Linked DNA regions of Homo sapiens: region 2 is linked to region 1. Evidence: fine-mapped expression QTL. A gene starts in region 1. The other region holds a variant in brackets. All regions are shown on one strand. Distances are between the middles of the regions. Region 1 holds the start of RNF38 (ring finger protein 38). Region 2 has its middle 64 kb from the start of RNF38.

Region 1 (8,125 bases):
CAGCACAATAATAGCGACAATTTAAAAGGTAACTAGAAGCAACCTAAATGTTTAACAAATACTTGCTAAGTAAAATTACGGTACACTTGCTTGAACTATGCAGCCATTAAAAAGTAGCAACCAGAAACACTACTACTTGGGGGAGGAGAAAATTATTTAAATGCTATGATCATAAGGTAGGGTTATATATGAACAGGACTTCATAAATTCAAGAAAAAAGTTATCTTGGAATATTAGGAAGAAAAACAGAGAACTCCCTATAAAGATTAAATAGAGCAGCCAAATCAATGAGGTGACTTGAGCATACACTCAGGAGAACATGTATAAGCTCCATGTCCTGTTCAGCACAATGTCACTAACACCTAGAAGAGTACATGGCACATAGCAGGCATTCAACTATTTATTAAAAGAATAATCTTCCAAACTGTAAGCAAATGATGTAACAGCCTGCCTTTCTGATTTGTGTAACAAGTTTCTTAGAAATCTGGTTGGCAATGAGACAAGCTAAAAGCTTTGATCAAGGAAGAGATCTGATGCACTCACCTGCAGGTTACCATTAAATGAAGTCAGTGGTTGCCCAGTAAGTCCACCCCATCCTACTGAGGCAGAATAAATCATTGAGCTACTGATGCATGCTGTGCTCCTTGCTAGGATTTTTTTTTTTCCCTGTTCTGAGAATAAACTAGACCTAAATGTCACCTTTCCTTTGAGAAGAGTTCTATCACTGGGCCTAAAACAAATCTGTTTCCTTGGCTTTTGTTTTCTGGGAGCAGAGTTCTCTGAAAGGATTTTGACAGTGTGGAGCAGGGGTACTCAAAGTCCCGGATGGCATTCTTCAAAGCTGGTCCAGGAGAGAACACTGCAAACAGGAATGGGACTGTGCACGCTTAGAGTTATGCAAAAGGCAGGCCTGGATGGGCACAGGGATCTTTGGGGGATGACAGAAATGTTCAAAATGTAACCAAAAAAATCTAATTGAATGGAGTGAATTTTATGGTATATAAAACATAACTTAATAAAGCTTCTTTAAAAAAAAAAATCGAGAGCCTGGTTCTGGAAAACTGAGGTCCAAACACTGGGTAGAACTGACCCTCTGAGATGTTACTACCCTTTGAGATCCAAGACAAAATTTCTAAGTCATTCATCTCTAAGCTTCAACAGTTCTCATACACAAATGACACATGAAAAAGACTGAAAGGAATAAAAAAAAAATCATTCTCTCACTACACAACGGTCACAATTTGCTTTATATATGTGTGTGTGTGTGTATATACGTATATACGTATATACACATGTATATATACGTATATATATGTGTGTGTGTATATATATATATATATGTTTTGTTTTTTTTTTTTTGAGACAGAGCTTTGCTCTTGTTGCCCAGGGTGGAGTGCAGTGGCGCAATCCTGACTCGCACAATCCTGACTCACTGCAGTCTTCACCTCCTGGGTTCAAGCAATTCTCCTGCTTCAGCCTCCAGAGTAGCGGATTACAGGTGCTGGTCACCACACCCGACTAATTTTTTTATTTTTAGTAGAGACAGGATTTCATCATATTATTCAGGCTGGTTTCAAACTCCTGACCTCAGGTGATCCACCAACCTCGGCCTCCCAAAGTGCTGGGATTACAGGCGTGAGCTAAAAAATAATTTAAAAATAATTTTGAAAAGCTAATAGGCAGTATTAGGAGAAACCATTCAAGGACTGGTACTATGTGGGTGAGGATGTTCATTACTGCCCAGCACCGGACAATCATTTCTAAACAGAAATTATGGTTCCCACTCTTGAGTTAGGCAAACAAACAGGACCCATCTCTTTCTGAGAGCACAGCAGAAATAGGGTGTGTGAAAACAGCCTAAGGCTCCCCTACTTCCTTTCCCCAGTCCACAATCCCATAAGGTGATGAAAAAGAAGGAAAAGGGAAAAGAAAACAGATGCAACGAAAGAAATCCTCTATCCATTACACAGAGAATGCAGAAATAAAGGGTAGGAAAAATAAGAGTTACATATTTTAAATAAACTTTTCTTTCCTTCCCTTCCAAAATCTAAATTTGCCTACACAAAGATTTTTCTCCCCTCAAAGAAGTATGTCTAAAATCGTTTTACTTAGGTTGGTTACCACAAAGAATTACACAGATGTGAAAAAATATCTAGACCACAAAAGTCCAAACCAATAAAAAATTTTATACACTCTCTCCCTCTCCCTCTCTCCAAACACACACACGGCGCACACACATATAATTACTTACACAATAATTGTGGGTTTTACAATAGTTGGAAAAAAGAGGTATGATTGAGTTATAATTTTATTAAATAACAATCATAATTCAAATAATTATTGCTTGCCTGCCATATGCTGGATGCTGTGACTACAAAATGGGAAAAAGAAACAGTCCTTACCCTTAAAGCAACTCAGTCTAGTGAGGGACAATTAATAACAGGAACTACAAGAAGATAATAGGGCTCCATAACCTAGATAGAAGAGGTGAAAAGTTCAGATCCTTAACAAAGGGAAAGATCTAAGGCAGGCAGGCTCCATGGCAAACACCTGTAGTCCTAGTTACTCAGGAGGCCAAGAAAGGAGGATCACCTGGGCCCAGAAGTTCGAGTCCAGAAGGGACAACATAGCAAAACCCGTTTCTGGAAAAACTAAAATTAAAAAAAAATTTTTTTAATGAAAGATGTAAGAGTTGGGAAGAGACTGTGTACATGACCCCTCTTCTTCATCTGTTTATTCTAAATTTCTCTCATTAATTTACTATATAGAGTTCAAGTATTAATGCTTTATCTCCTCTAGATAACGTCGTATTAATTAACGTTTGCTGATGAACTAGACAAGAACTATACTGTTCAAATCCATGTTTACAATCTGTTCGCTCTTTCCAGAGAAAAGGCTGTGAGTTAAGTAGAGTAAAATGGAAGTGAAAACTGTCTGACATGTTTTCTTAGCAGGAAAACCAAAACAAACACAACGCAACAATCAAGACTAATTAAGAACTACCTTTCCAGCAAGATGAATTACAAAATGGTGGTGGCCTAAACCAAACTAGAGGTAGTACAGAGAAATAGGTGGAATAAACTAGAAGACATAATCTTGACCAATAATCTTTCCATACTGAGCAAGTACCTAATCATTTCAGAAACTTTTATCATAAGAATTTCTCACCCACACTTTCCACTCACAGCCTCAAAAAAAGAAAGTGAGCACAAACAGAAACAGCCTAGGAATGTAACATGAATTAAAAGCCTCATCCAATGCTGTTGGCAGAGAGACAACAGATCTACACTCTACATTATGATGCTAACAGTCAGTTATGTCTGACTATGCCATCTTGTTTACTCTTCATCAAAAATTAGGTTATTTTAGTAGAGAAAATTCTCCTCAATATTCACCCAGAGTAATACTTGACAATTTAACTATAAAAACAAGATGGGCATATAAAGCCCAACAAGTATGGAAATACGAACTACCTTCTAGAATCACAGACGAAGTCAGAGGTGGAAAACCCACAGATTATTTAAGTCCAACTTTTTTTATATTTTACAGATGAGAGCCTGAGGCCCACATGACGAGTCTGTGGCAGAACTTATTCAACTATAGGCGCTAAGGCCTTCAAATCTCTTAGAAATAAGTCTTACAGAAATATCATAAAAATCAACTTAAAATTGAATGAACAATGTATGATTAGCAGGTTTGCAAAAGGTGAAATATACCATATTATAAATATATATAATATATTATATAATACCATATTATAAATAAATATATTATAAATATATATTTATAAACCCCAGAGAAAGGAGTATCTGAAGTGACACAATTCCCAGGTAAACTTCCAGTCAGAAATTTCATCTTTTTATTCCAAGTGTGTCCCAGCTTCCCACACCTGATCTGACATCTATATGTATGTGGTTTCGTATTATCTCTACAAAAGTTCTATTTCTTCCATTAGACGGTGTTCCCTGAAGATAGGAACAATTTTACTTCGATTCCAACTGTCCCTATAAAAGGGAATTTTTTTTAAAGCCTACATACAAGGTTTGTTTGCTATTGAAAAAAATTTACGGTAAATTTTCAAGTATAACAACACTCGCAATCAAGGCCAAACAGAATACAGCAGACTTGCAACTCTAAGGTAACAACTGTATTATGAGCTTTGTATACATTTAAGTTTTCATACGTTAAGTCCACCGCTTAAGAAAAAAGAAATGGCAATTCATATAATGGTGGCAATAATTACATGTGTGTGTTTCTACTTACGGTAGAATTAGCATACCCAACTTTTACTGAATAATAGCATATATCATTTTTGCAACACAAAGAAAAATACTTTACCTTACAAGCCATACAGACGTAAACAAAAACTTTATTTCTTTTTGGACCTCAATAACCTGAAACACTCCCGTTTCAAAAACCAACCTCTCTCACGCTTCAACCCTGAAAGGAAGAACTTGCATCCCCTGAGAACAAAACGCAGCCTATCCAGAAACCCACGGAAGCAGAAGGACGCCAGAGAGGACCCTTTCGACCGGGTTCCGCGTTCTCCTGGGTGACATCATTTCACCTGCGTCTCGGCAAAAAGGGAGGGAGCGAGAGAGCGAGGCCATCTGCCGGGCAGCGGGCCGGCGGCTCCGCGAGCTGAGACCGCGCCTCCTCGCCACCGCGGGAACAAAGAGCGCCGGGCGGCCGAGGCAAACCTTAGCCCAAGACTCGGGCGCGGCCCCGCAGGCTCTCAACGGCCCGCAGCCCGTCCCGCCCTCGCGCTGCAGCCAACGGCCGCGGCGGCCAGTACCTGCGAGGGGAGGCTCCGCCCTGCCGGGCAGCTCCCGCGGATCCTCGCTGGGCCGCCGCCTCCTATTGTGACTGCTCGCCCAGCCCGCGGCCAGCTCGCCAGATCCGCCGTCCGCGGGCCTCCTCACCCCCGGAACCCCGGCTCCAACTTAGGCACTGTCACTGCGCTTCCTTCCTCCCGGCACCATCACACGGGCCGCGCCAGGAAACGACGGCTGCACGCCCAGAGATGACAGAGTCGCCTAACGCCTCGGAGGCTCCATCCTCTCCGCCCCCACGCCCCAACCGACCGGGCCTCGGCCCCGTCCCGCAACACCGCACTAGGGGCCCGGCCCGGCCACGCCCCTCCCCGCCCCGCCGCGCCCCGCCGCACCCCGCCTCACCCCGCCTCGGCGATCACAGACCCGGGCTCCCTATGCGCCGGCGCACTGGCCTCCGCTGCGCGCGCAGGCGACTCCCCTCGCCGCTAGGCCGCGACACGCGCGGTCCTCCCACTTCTTGGGTCCGGGTCGCCCGTCCCACCCCGTCCCCTCGCCAGCACAAACCTAGCGAGCCCAGCGCGCCAGACCACCGGAGCGCTCCTCCCTTTTCCCCCAGGCTCCGCACCGCGCGCCGAACCCCCTTTGTTTCCACCCCGAGGGGGAAGGGGGCGGGGCGGGGCGGGGCGGGGCTGCGCGCGGCCCGGCGCACGACTCGGACCAGTTCCGGCAACAGAGCTCCGCGCGCAGCACCACTGCGCAGCCCCGCCCCAGCCCGCCCCCCGCTGCCCTGCGGACCGCAGGGCCCTGTTCCAATTCCTATAGATTTTCTCTTAGTAAATTGTTGCTACTGTTCCGTGCCTCCTACCTACAAAACTCCGCAATCAAACAGTAACTGACCTCACGTAGTTCTTACAGCATAAATGCATTCACGTGGCCCGAAAAGTAAGAATTTTTATTGCAGTACACAAAGGTGTCTCTCAATGCAGCAAGCCAACAGGTTCGAACCCAACTTGTCCGAGGCTTCCTTAAGTGTGACAGTTGCTCAGATGTCGCTTGGGGAGGGGAAATAAGAACAAAGATTGAAGCCGGCTTGGCTCCTGTCCTGATAATCACGATACAAGAGAGAAAATAAAAATTTCCACAAAAGCACAATCCATACAAGGAAAAAATAGTAAAGTGGTATCAGACTTAAGGAGAGAGGGCAGTCAAGAGGACATCATGGAAGGGGTGGACTTTTTAAAGCAGAAATTAGATGTTTCCCGCAAGGATGGTGATCATATTTTAGGGTGGTAGAGTAAAATTATTAAGGACCAGTCAACAGAAAACTCGGGTTTTCAAGTTCTAGTTCTTTTGGCATTACTTAAACCAGTCTCTCTTTCCCTCTCTGGGCCTCAGCTGCAACCAGTAGAAAATGGGGGAAATCAGAGTAAATGTTGTTTCAGGACCTTCTGGACCTTGGACATTCTCTTTATGAACAACACTATATGGTAATTATTTATGTACACTTGTCTCCCATATCAGACTGAGCACCCAGACTCTGTTGGGACTGTGTAAACTAAACCCAAGGCCCAAGTCTAGTGCCAGAAACACAAGAGAAGGTGTTTAGCAACTGCTGAATCAAAGTTCCAGCAATAACATCATAGGTTTTGGAATTCCAGGACAAACAAAGAGAAGCTGGAAAGAGGTATTAGGTCCCTATGAACATATCCACCCCAAACCCATACTCGAATTATGTAACCCAGTTAACCAGCTGGCTGGCTCTCTCCCAAAGCAGCCAGTTTGGAGATGATCACATCTAAACTTGTTTTTTTTGTTTGTTTGTTTCACTTCAAGGTAAAGTGCCAACCATACCTTTAAGTTTATCCAATGTATCCTATTTTCTATCCTCTGTATCCCTCACAAATCGCAATCTACTGTGGATTCGCCTTCCAATTACAGATCTTCCACCAGAATCTAAGCTTAAAAAAAAAAAAAAAAATCCTCCCTACAGAACGCAGACCACCCTGAAGTAGCTTTTCCTCCAAGCTTGGATAGGACTATGTGAAGAGAGGGGAAAGGGGAGAAGAACATCAGGAAAGGAAAGGGAAGTTACATTTGGGAGCTATCTAACTGTAAGAGAGGCAGATTCCTCAAGTGCTGAACTCAGCAGCAAAAATCTATTACAGTCCTCCAGCATTCCTCACCTCTAAGCTTCAGCAAATCCCTCTGAGCTTCAGCCAACCTTTTGTGAGGCAAGCTTCCTGAAACCTCTCAAATGGTTACGATCTTCAACAATGCTGTCACAACCCCAGGTTGGATAGTTTTAAATTTCTTCTTCTTTTTTTATTTTTTTTGTATTTTGAGACACGGTGCTCTGTCGCCCAGGCTGGAGTGCAATGGCTGGATCACATCTCACTGCAGTCTCAAACTCCTGGGCTCAGGCAATCCAGGCTAAATTTTTAATTTTCTGTAGAGGCAGGTCTCACTATGTTGCCCAGGCTGGTCTCTAACTCCTGGGCTCAAGCAGTCCTCCCATATTGGCCTCCCAGAATGCTGGGATTACAGGTGTGAACTACCATGCACAGCCTCTAATTTATTTCTTAACCAGAAAATCTTAAGCCATGCAAGTAAACACCCAAAGAGCAGGCAGGCTTTTAAAGTGGTGGGCCACCTTTGACACCTAATGTGGCAGGGGCTAAAGTTATACCAGAGCAGTCACTTAACTACAGTCAAGCTAAAATTTTATTTGGTGTCTGTCCACAAAGGTGGAAAGTCCCACTGCAGAACTAATAGAACTTTCTGCAATGACAAAAATATTCTACATCTGCCCCATCGAAAAGGCTGCCACTAGCTAGTGACATGTAGCTACTGAGCACTTGAAATGTGGCTAGTCCAATTAATGAATTGTCCAGGATCAGTTTTTAAAGCCACACAGGGCTACGGGACAGTACAGCATTTGTAAGAAAAGGTGCTTTTGGCAAGAGCTTTTTGAGAATTCTGACTCTGAGGCTCCCTTTAAAAAACTGGTTTTCTTGACAAGTGAAAATTGTGAATGACTACTGTTATTCCAGAGCTACCCAAGTCATTTGAGTCCCTTCAATTTTAAAATAAAAATATATCAAAACATTGCTTACTGAACAGGAAAATGCTGAAGTTCCTTCAGATGGTTCTGGTAGTTATTCAATGAGATTGTTTACTCTGGTGTTCTGCCATTCTAATACATGGGAATAACAGCAGCCACTATACAAAAACTGCATAGGATTTTAGAACTGATCACCTAGTGAACAAATTCAGCCTATTCTTCAATGCTAAATCTCACCCACTTTTCACCTTTTAAAGAATGTGACTCTACAAATTCTCTTTTATACCAT
Region 2 (8,125 bases), 65 kb after region 1:
AGAACAGGGTTGATCCAGAAAGTAAGGTAAATCAATGCACAGTGGTGGGAAACAGACTTTTCCTAGTCCCAGAACACTTAATGGACTGGAAGCAGCAACTAGCTTAATCAGTGACATTCACACATATAAAGAAAAAAAGGAGCCAGGCGCGGTGGCTCACTCCCATAATCCCAGCACTTTGGGAGGCCAAGGCAGGCAGATCAGCTGAGGTTCGGAGTTCAAGACCAGCCTGACCAACGTGGAGAAACCCCATCTCTACTAAAAATACAAAATTAGCCAGGCGTGGTGGCACATGCCTGTAATCCCAGCTACTCAGGAGGCTGAGGCAGAAGAATCGCTTGAACCCAGGAGGTGAAGGTTGCAGCGAGCCGAGATTGCACCATTGCACTCCAGCCTGGGCAACAAGAGGGAAACTCTCTCAAAAAAAAAAAAAAAAAAAAAGAAAGAAAGAAAGAAAAAAAAGGAGGCTGGTCGCGATGGCTCACAACTGTAATTCCAACACTTTGGGAGGCCAAAGCAGGTGGATCACCTGAGATTAGAAGTTCAAGACCAGCCTGGCCAACATGGGGGAAACCCCGTATCTACTAAAAAATACAATAATTAGCTGGGTGTGGTGGTGCACACCTGTAATCCCAGCTACTTGGGAGGCTGAGGCAGGAGAATTGCTTGAACCTGGGAGGCGGAGATTGCGGTGAGCCAAGGCTGCACCACTGCACTGCACTCCAGCCTGGGCAACAAGAGCAAAACTCCATCTCAAAACAAACAAACAAACAAACAAAAACTCTGGGTCAGGGATGTTAAAGCCATGAATGAGTAGTGGTAAGCTGTATGCTATAAAGGAAAAAGAAAACCAGAATACAATGACAGAGCAGAGAGGTAAAACCTTCTTTAGACTGAGTAGTCAAGGAAGGCCTCAGAAGAAAGCTGAGAGCTCAGGGATGAGAAGGAGCTGAGTACTCAAAGGGTAGAACAAGAGTGTTCTATGCAGAGAAAACAGCCTGGAAGAGACAGGAAAAACTGTAAATTCAAGTGCAATGGGATGCCACTGAATAGTTTAAGTAACCATGTGACCCATTCTTTCAAAAGCTTTCTCTGGCTGCTATGCAGAGAAAAAAATTGGAGACCAGACAAGTGTGAAGACCAGCTGAAAGGCTACTGTGGCAGTTCAGGGGGAGAGATGGGATAGCTTCAGTGAAAAGAGGTGAAACAATACAAAATACATTCTGGAGATGTGCTGGAAAGGACAAGAATGTGGTGGGGAGTGGTGTGTAAGAAAAACAAAGGTGCCAAAAATGACTCCTAGATTCCTGGTTTAAGCATTTCCGATGGAAAAAACTAAGGGGAGAAATAGTTTTGCAGATAATAATTTCAGTTTGGACATGTGAAGTATGAACTCCCTATAAAATACAAATTTGGGGATTCTCAGCACATAAATGATATTTAAATCCTTGGGAACAAATGCTATCATCCAGAAAACACAGAAGAGAGATGAAGAAACAGGCCCAAGCCCTGAGGAACTCAAACATGCAGTGACCGGGAAAAGAGGTTGGCAAAAAGTATATGCAAAGGTAAGAGGAAAACAAGGATTATGAGATTACAGAAGCCAACAGGCTGGGATCCAAGAAAGAGGATAAATTACGTGGATAACTCTGGTAAGAGATGCAGTAAGATGTGGTCTGAATATCCACTGGTTTGGCAACCCACCATTATGGATGACCTTGGCAGAGCAGTTTCAGGGAACTGGAATAAAGGATTAAGTCAAAGAGGGCTGAAGGGTGACTGACTATACACCAACCAGCCTGTATGCAACTTAGCAAACTTCCCAACTATCACCAAGATGCAGGTAAATCACCTCATCTCTCTCCTGCTCTACCGTAACAGCCTCCAACTGCTTTTCCTGCTTCAATCCTTACCCTCCTACAACCCATTCTCAGCACAGCGGCCAGAAAGATCCTAGAAGGGAAGTCATACCATATATCACCACTCCTCTGCTCAGTGATCTCATCTCATTCAGAACAAAGGTCAAAAACAAAGTATCCCTAATAGTCTAGAAGGTCACCATCTTACCTCTGAACACTCCTGTTCATGGAATACAGCAAGCACACTTTTGCGTCAGGGCTTCTGCACTTAAAACAGCTTGATGCCTAACTTCCTTCGAATTTCTGCTCAAATGTCACTGCACCAATGATGCTTTCTCTGACCAACTGATTGATTTTTTTTTTTTTTTGAGACAGAGTCCTGCTCTGTCGCCCAGGCTGGAGATCAGTGGCATGATCTCAGCTCACCACAACTTCCGCCTCCCAGGTTTAAGTGATTGTCGTGCCTCAGCCTCCCGAGTAGCTAGGACTACAGGCGGGCACCACCACACCTGGCTAATATTTGTATTTTTAGTAGACACGGAGTTTCACCATGTTGGCCAGGCTGGTCTCCAACTCCTGACCTCAGGTGATCTGCCTGCCTCAGTCTCCCCTGCTGGGATTACAGGTGTGAGCCACTGTACCCCGCCCTGATTTACTTTTTTTTTTTTTAAGTGAAAACAAGCTTATTAAGCAAGTGAAGGAATAAAGAATGGCTACTCCATAGGCAGAGCAGCCTGGTCAAGTGATTTAAATAGCACCTGCTTTCATTCTTTGCTTATCTTGGCCTACCCTGATCTGTTTTTCTTCTTACCACTTATCATCCTTATGGCATATTTATGCTTACTGTCTGTCTCACATCATGAGGATGTAAGCTTCATAAGAGTAGAGGTTTTACCTGCTTTTGTTCACTACTGTGTAGCCAGTATGTAGGCCTGGTACACAGTAGACACTCATTTGTTTCTTGCATGTAAGTCAGGAGAAAGGCCCCGCACATTATGAAGTAATAAACTGGCACTTTCAGTTTGATACAAGCCTTCTGTTATTTAGATAATATGAGTCTGATCACTCACAGGAATGCAGGAAAGTCTCATTTCTGGATCCATGAAATAGAATACTAGTTCTTCAATGATCTAAACGTAGGCCTTGAAAAACTCACAATTATGCCATTCTGCTGGGTGTCTCCTTGTAAATTCAAGAGCATTTCCATTCAATTTTCAATATGAACTGTTTACCTTTTGGGTAAAGCAAGGTACACTAGAAAAAAAAAATCATTTGTAATAATGCAAAGACGTGGTCACGAAGGGGGCAATGGTACTGATGAATCACACAAATACAAAGATATGTACATATTACATTTGAACAAAGGCAAGTATGTATGGTGCACTGGGATTAGGTAATTCTTCCAAATAATTGAACCATGCTTTCCAGTCTGTCTATTTAATTTCCCTAATCATCTCTCTAATCACCAAGAAGAGACTAAGCTATTTTTCTCTGCAAACTCCCTAGCTCACACTTACTCTTTTGTCCTCAGAAAAATAAGTGACCAAAAACTATTATCTTAGGCCAGGTGCGGTGGCTCACGCCTGTAATCCCAGCACTTTGGGAGGCCGAGGCGGGCGGATCACGAGGTCAGGAGATAGAGACCATCCTGGCTAACATGGTGAAACCCTGTCTCTACTAAAAATACAAAAAATTAGCCGGGCGTGGTGGCAGGCACCTGTACTCCCAGGTACTCAGGTTGAGGCAGGAGAATGGCGTGAACCCGGGAGGTGGAGATTGCAGTGAGCCTAGATCACGACACTGCACTCCAGCCTGGGCGACAGAGCAAGACTCTGTCTCAAAAAACAAACAAACAAACAAAAAACCACACAAAAAAAATTATCTTCTAATTTCTGACAAGATCAAAGCTCTGCATTATGTAGATGAAATGCAAGCCTTAATTATAATTTGAAATCATATTTAGGCCGGGCGCAGTGGCTCACGCCTGTAATCCCAGCACTTTAGGAGGCCAAGGCAGGCGGATCACAAGGTCAGGAGTTCGAGACCAGCCTGGCCAATATGGTGAAACTCTGTCACTACTAAAAATACAAAAAAAAATTAGCCAGGTGTGGTGGCGCACACCTGTAATCCCAGCTACTCAGGAGGCTGAGGCAGGAGAATTGCTTGAACCTGGGAGGCGGAGGTTGTGGTAAGCTGAGATCGC[G/A]CCACTGTACTCCAGCCTGGGTGACAGAGTGAGACTCCGTCTCAAAAAAAAAAAAAAATCATATTTGTATCAGATTATCAGTCATATATATCTACTCATGTAACCCTAAACAAACTGTGAAAACACAAATCCTGGAAACTGCAATATTCACCCAATAAATTAATATACATACACTGTATAGCTAAGAATGGAAGGAAATGGCAAAACAAGTTAAAATACAGATAAATCTAAATAACTGTGATCAATCTGGCTACATAATTGTGTGGAACATTTTTAAAAATCATTTCCAAAAATATGTAATATATAAAGATAACATAAAATTCCAGATTTGCAAAGAAAAAAGTAAAGAAAGCAAATGTACTAAAATGCTTGTTTTACAATTATGAGGACTCAAAAAGATACTATTTAGTGCTCTGCCTCTGACAGAGAATTTTAAAAGCCTTCTTAAAATCTGCATGGACCAATAACACAAAAAGATACTTAACATCATTAGCCATGGGGGGAATGCAAATCAAAACTAGAAGGAGATACCACTTCCCACCCACTAGGAGGGCTATAATCAAAAAGACAGATAACAGAGAACAAGTGTTGGCAACAATGTGGAGAAATTAGAACCCTCGTACACTGCTGGTGGGAATATAAAATGGTGTAACAACCTTAAAAAACAGCACGGCAGTTCCTCAAAAGGTTAAGCTTAGAGTTCCATTTGACCCAGTAATTCTACTCCTACATAGGGGTGGGTTCGTGTTTACACAAGAGAAATAAAAATATATGTCCATGTAAAAACTTGTACACAAGTGTTCATAGCAGCATTCTTTTTTTCTTTTTTTTCTTTCAAGATGGAGTTTCGCTCTTGTTGCCCAGGCTGGAGTGCAATGGCACAATCTCGGCTCACTGCAACTTCCACTACCCAGGTTCAAGCGATTCTCCTGCCTTAGCCTCCCGACTAACTGGGATTACAGGCATACGCCACCACGCCTGGCTGATTTTATATTTTTATAGAGACAGGGTTTCTCCATGTTGGTCAGGCTGGTCTCGAACTCCTGACCTCAGGTGATCCGCCTGCCTTGGCGTCCCAAAGTGCTGAGATTACAGGCATCAGCCACTATACCCGGCCCATAGCAGCATTATTCATAATCATCCAAAATAGGATGCAATCCATATGTGCATTAACTGATGAATGGGTAAAGTATGATACACCTATACAACTAATATTTACCTACAAAAAGTAACAAAGTGCTGGCCGGGCGCGGTGGCTCACGCCTGTAATCCCAGCACTTTGGGAGGCCGAGGCGGGTGGATCACGAGGTCAGGAGATCGGGACCATCCTGGCTAACACGGTGAAACCCCGTCTCTACTAAAAATACAAAAAAAATTAGCCGGGCATGGTGGCAGGCACCTGTAGTCCCAGCTACTCAGGAGGCTGAGGCAGGAGAATGGTGTGAACCCAGGAGGCGGAGCTTGCAGTGAGCCGAGATCGGGCCACTGCACTTGAGCCTGGGCAACAGTGCGAGACTCTGTCTCGTGAAAAAGTAAAAAAAAGTAACAAAGTGCTGATACATGTCACAACATAGATGAACCTGAAAATACTATCTATTCTAAGTGGAAGAAGCCAGTACTGTTCATAAAAGTGCAAATTGTATGATTCCATTTATATAAAAGGTCCAGAACAGGCTAATCTACAGAGACAGAAAGTAGATAGCTGTTGCCTAGGACTGAGATGGGAGGAAATGGAGAGTGACTGCCAATGAGTGGAGGATTTCTTTTCAGGGAGATGAAAATGCTCTGGTATTAGATAGTGGTACTGGTTACACAACTGTGAATACACCAAAACCCACTTAATTGTATACTTTATTTGGGTAAATTGTATATGTAAATTTATATTTCGATAAAGCTGTTAAGAATGAGGTAGCAGGCACAATGGGAGGCTCATAAAGCGTAGTTTTAGTATTTTATTTCTTGACCTGCTTGGTAGTTACACACGTGGGTTCACACTATGATGATTCATTGAGCTGCAAACTTACAAGATATGAATGTTTCTATACGTATTTCGTATGTCAAACAAATGTTTCAAAAAATAAATTTATAAATACTGACTTGGAAAGAGACCCAACATTATTATAAAGTGGGAAAAAAGCAAGTTTCAGAACAATATATATACTATGGTCCCACTTTTTGTAAATTTATACACAACACTACATGAATATACACATATCCAATCCTCACTGACCTCTGCAGGATTCAAATAAAGGAACTTTTATTTTCTCTAATATACATTTCTATAACATTTTAAATTTTGCCATGTATATTTTTGTAATCAGAAGACAATAATGTCTACTTATAAAAAAATTTGAAAAGGCATAAAGACAGCCAGTTGCGGTGGCTCACACCTGTAATCACAGCACTTTGGGAGGCTGAGGCAGGCAGTTTCACCTAAGGTTAGGAGTTTGAGACCAGCCTGGTCAACATGGCGAAACCCCGTCTCTACTAAAAATACAAAAATTAGCCAGGCGTGGTGGCACGCGCCTGTAATCCCTGCTACTCAGGAGGCTGAGGCAGGAGAATCATTTGAACCCAGGAGGTGGAGGTTGCAGTGAGCCGAGATCACACAATTGCACTGCAGCCTGGGCGACACAGCGAGACTCCGTCTCAAAAAAAAAAACAACTGCAACTAATCTGATTGCTATTACATATATATATATATAATATATATATATACACACACACACACATATACACACACATACATATATGGGTAACAGTAATAGTGAAATTATCTTTTCCAACTATTTAAAATTATGAAAAAAATTAGATGTCTACTTAAAATTTTTCAAGATTTTCAGAGTATATATTCAAAATACTTTGAATATCACTAATTAAGGAGAGTAATTATGCAGCAAGAGAAAACAGCCCAGTGCAAGGAGGCTGCAGCTCTGAGCTATGGGGCCTGAGAGAAGAGCCTAGCCCTCTGTGGGCCTGTTTCCTCAATATGACAATAAGGAGGTCAGATTATGATTCTGCTGCTCTCTGCTTCAAGAGTCACTAACTGGGTGGGTCAGGCCATTTGGGATATAACATCACTACCAATAATAACACCATTAGCAGCAATAATAAAACCCACTATAGCTTTTTCAACAATTAATGTACACTTCCATGCATCATCTCTATACACAAATGCCTGCGCCTCTCACACAGGTAATTTGTGGACACACACCAAAATGGTACCTGTTACCACCTCTGGGATTATAGTGGGGAGAGGAATAAGAATGGAGGGTCCATCAGTCAGGTCCCAAAAGTAAAGAGATGGCAAATACAAATCAGAATAATCTGAGAAGGGTTTGTTTATAAAAGAAATAATTACAAAGTAGGGGAATAGAGGCTACAGAAACCATGGGGATGGAACAGAAATCAGGACTAGTAAAGGCAGAACAAGGCTGAGCAACAGTGGCTCACACCTGTAATCCCAGCACTTTGGGATGCCAAGGTGGGAAGACTGAGTGAGCTCAGGAGTTCAAGACTAGTCTAGGAAACACAGCAAGATTCCACCTCTACAAAAAATGTTTAGAAACTAGCCAGTTGTGGTGGCGCACGCCTGTTGTCCCTACTCAAGAGGCTGAGGTGGGAAGACTGCTTGGGCCCAGAAGCTCAAGGCTGCAGTGGGCCATGATCGCACCACTGTACTCCAGCCTGCTGGGCAGAGCAATGTTCTGTCTTAAAAAAAAAAAAAAAAAGGCAGAACAAGTATTGCTTCTAGAAGTGCCAAAGAAGATAGGAGACAGAGATTACCAGAACGCAGAATCCAGGTATATAATACATGCTACCCTGAGAGGTGAAGGGATAAATATTCTGACCTCCTTCTCTGGCCCTTCAATCCAGAGGGCCTAAGAGTTCTTTATCTGGGGCAAAGAGCCAGGTAGAAAAGAGTAGAGGATGGATCTGGAGAGGTAAAGAAAAGATATCCAGCCCAGATTTCTTTTAACTTTTTATAAAATTAAATACATGAGCCTGGCGTGGTGGCTCACGCCTATAATCTCAGCACTTTGGGAGGCCGAGGCAGGTGGAT

The links. PIP is the estimated chance that this variant, and not a neighbour inherited with it, causes the effect.
Region 2: its variant is fine-mapped to the expression of RNF38 in whole blood (TOPMed, PIP above 0.99).

The regions. Positions count from the first base shown.
Region 1 is chr9:36,395,759-36,403,883 of GRCh38, forward strand. RNF38 (ring finger protein 38) reads right to left here and starts at 4,511. Exons shown (of 12, transcript NM_022781.5): 1 at 4,339-4,511. The coding sequence starts at 4,350. It overlaps LOC124902152 (a long non-coding RNA gene), which reads right to left. Exons shown (of 2, transcript XR_007061475.1): 1 at 6,136-8,125; 2 at 5,707-5,827. RefSeq lists an enhancer at 4,471-4,540 and silencers at 4,751-5,080, 5,111-5,570.
Region 2 is chr9:36,460,466-36,468,590 of GRCh38, forward strand. It overlaps a transcript of RNF38 not described here. Among named protein-coding and RNA genes, the nearest start is that of RNF38, 64 kb to the left of the region's middle. The variant G/A (reference allele first, on the strand shown) is at 4,063.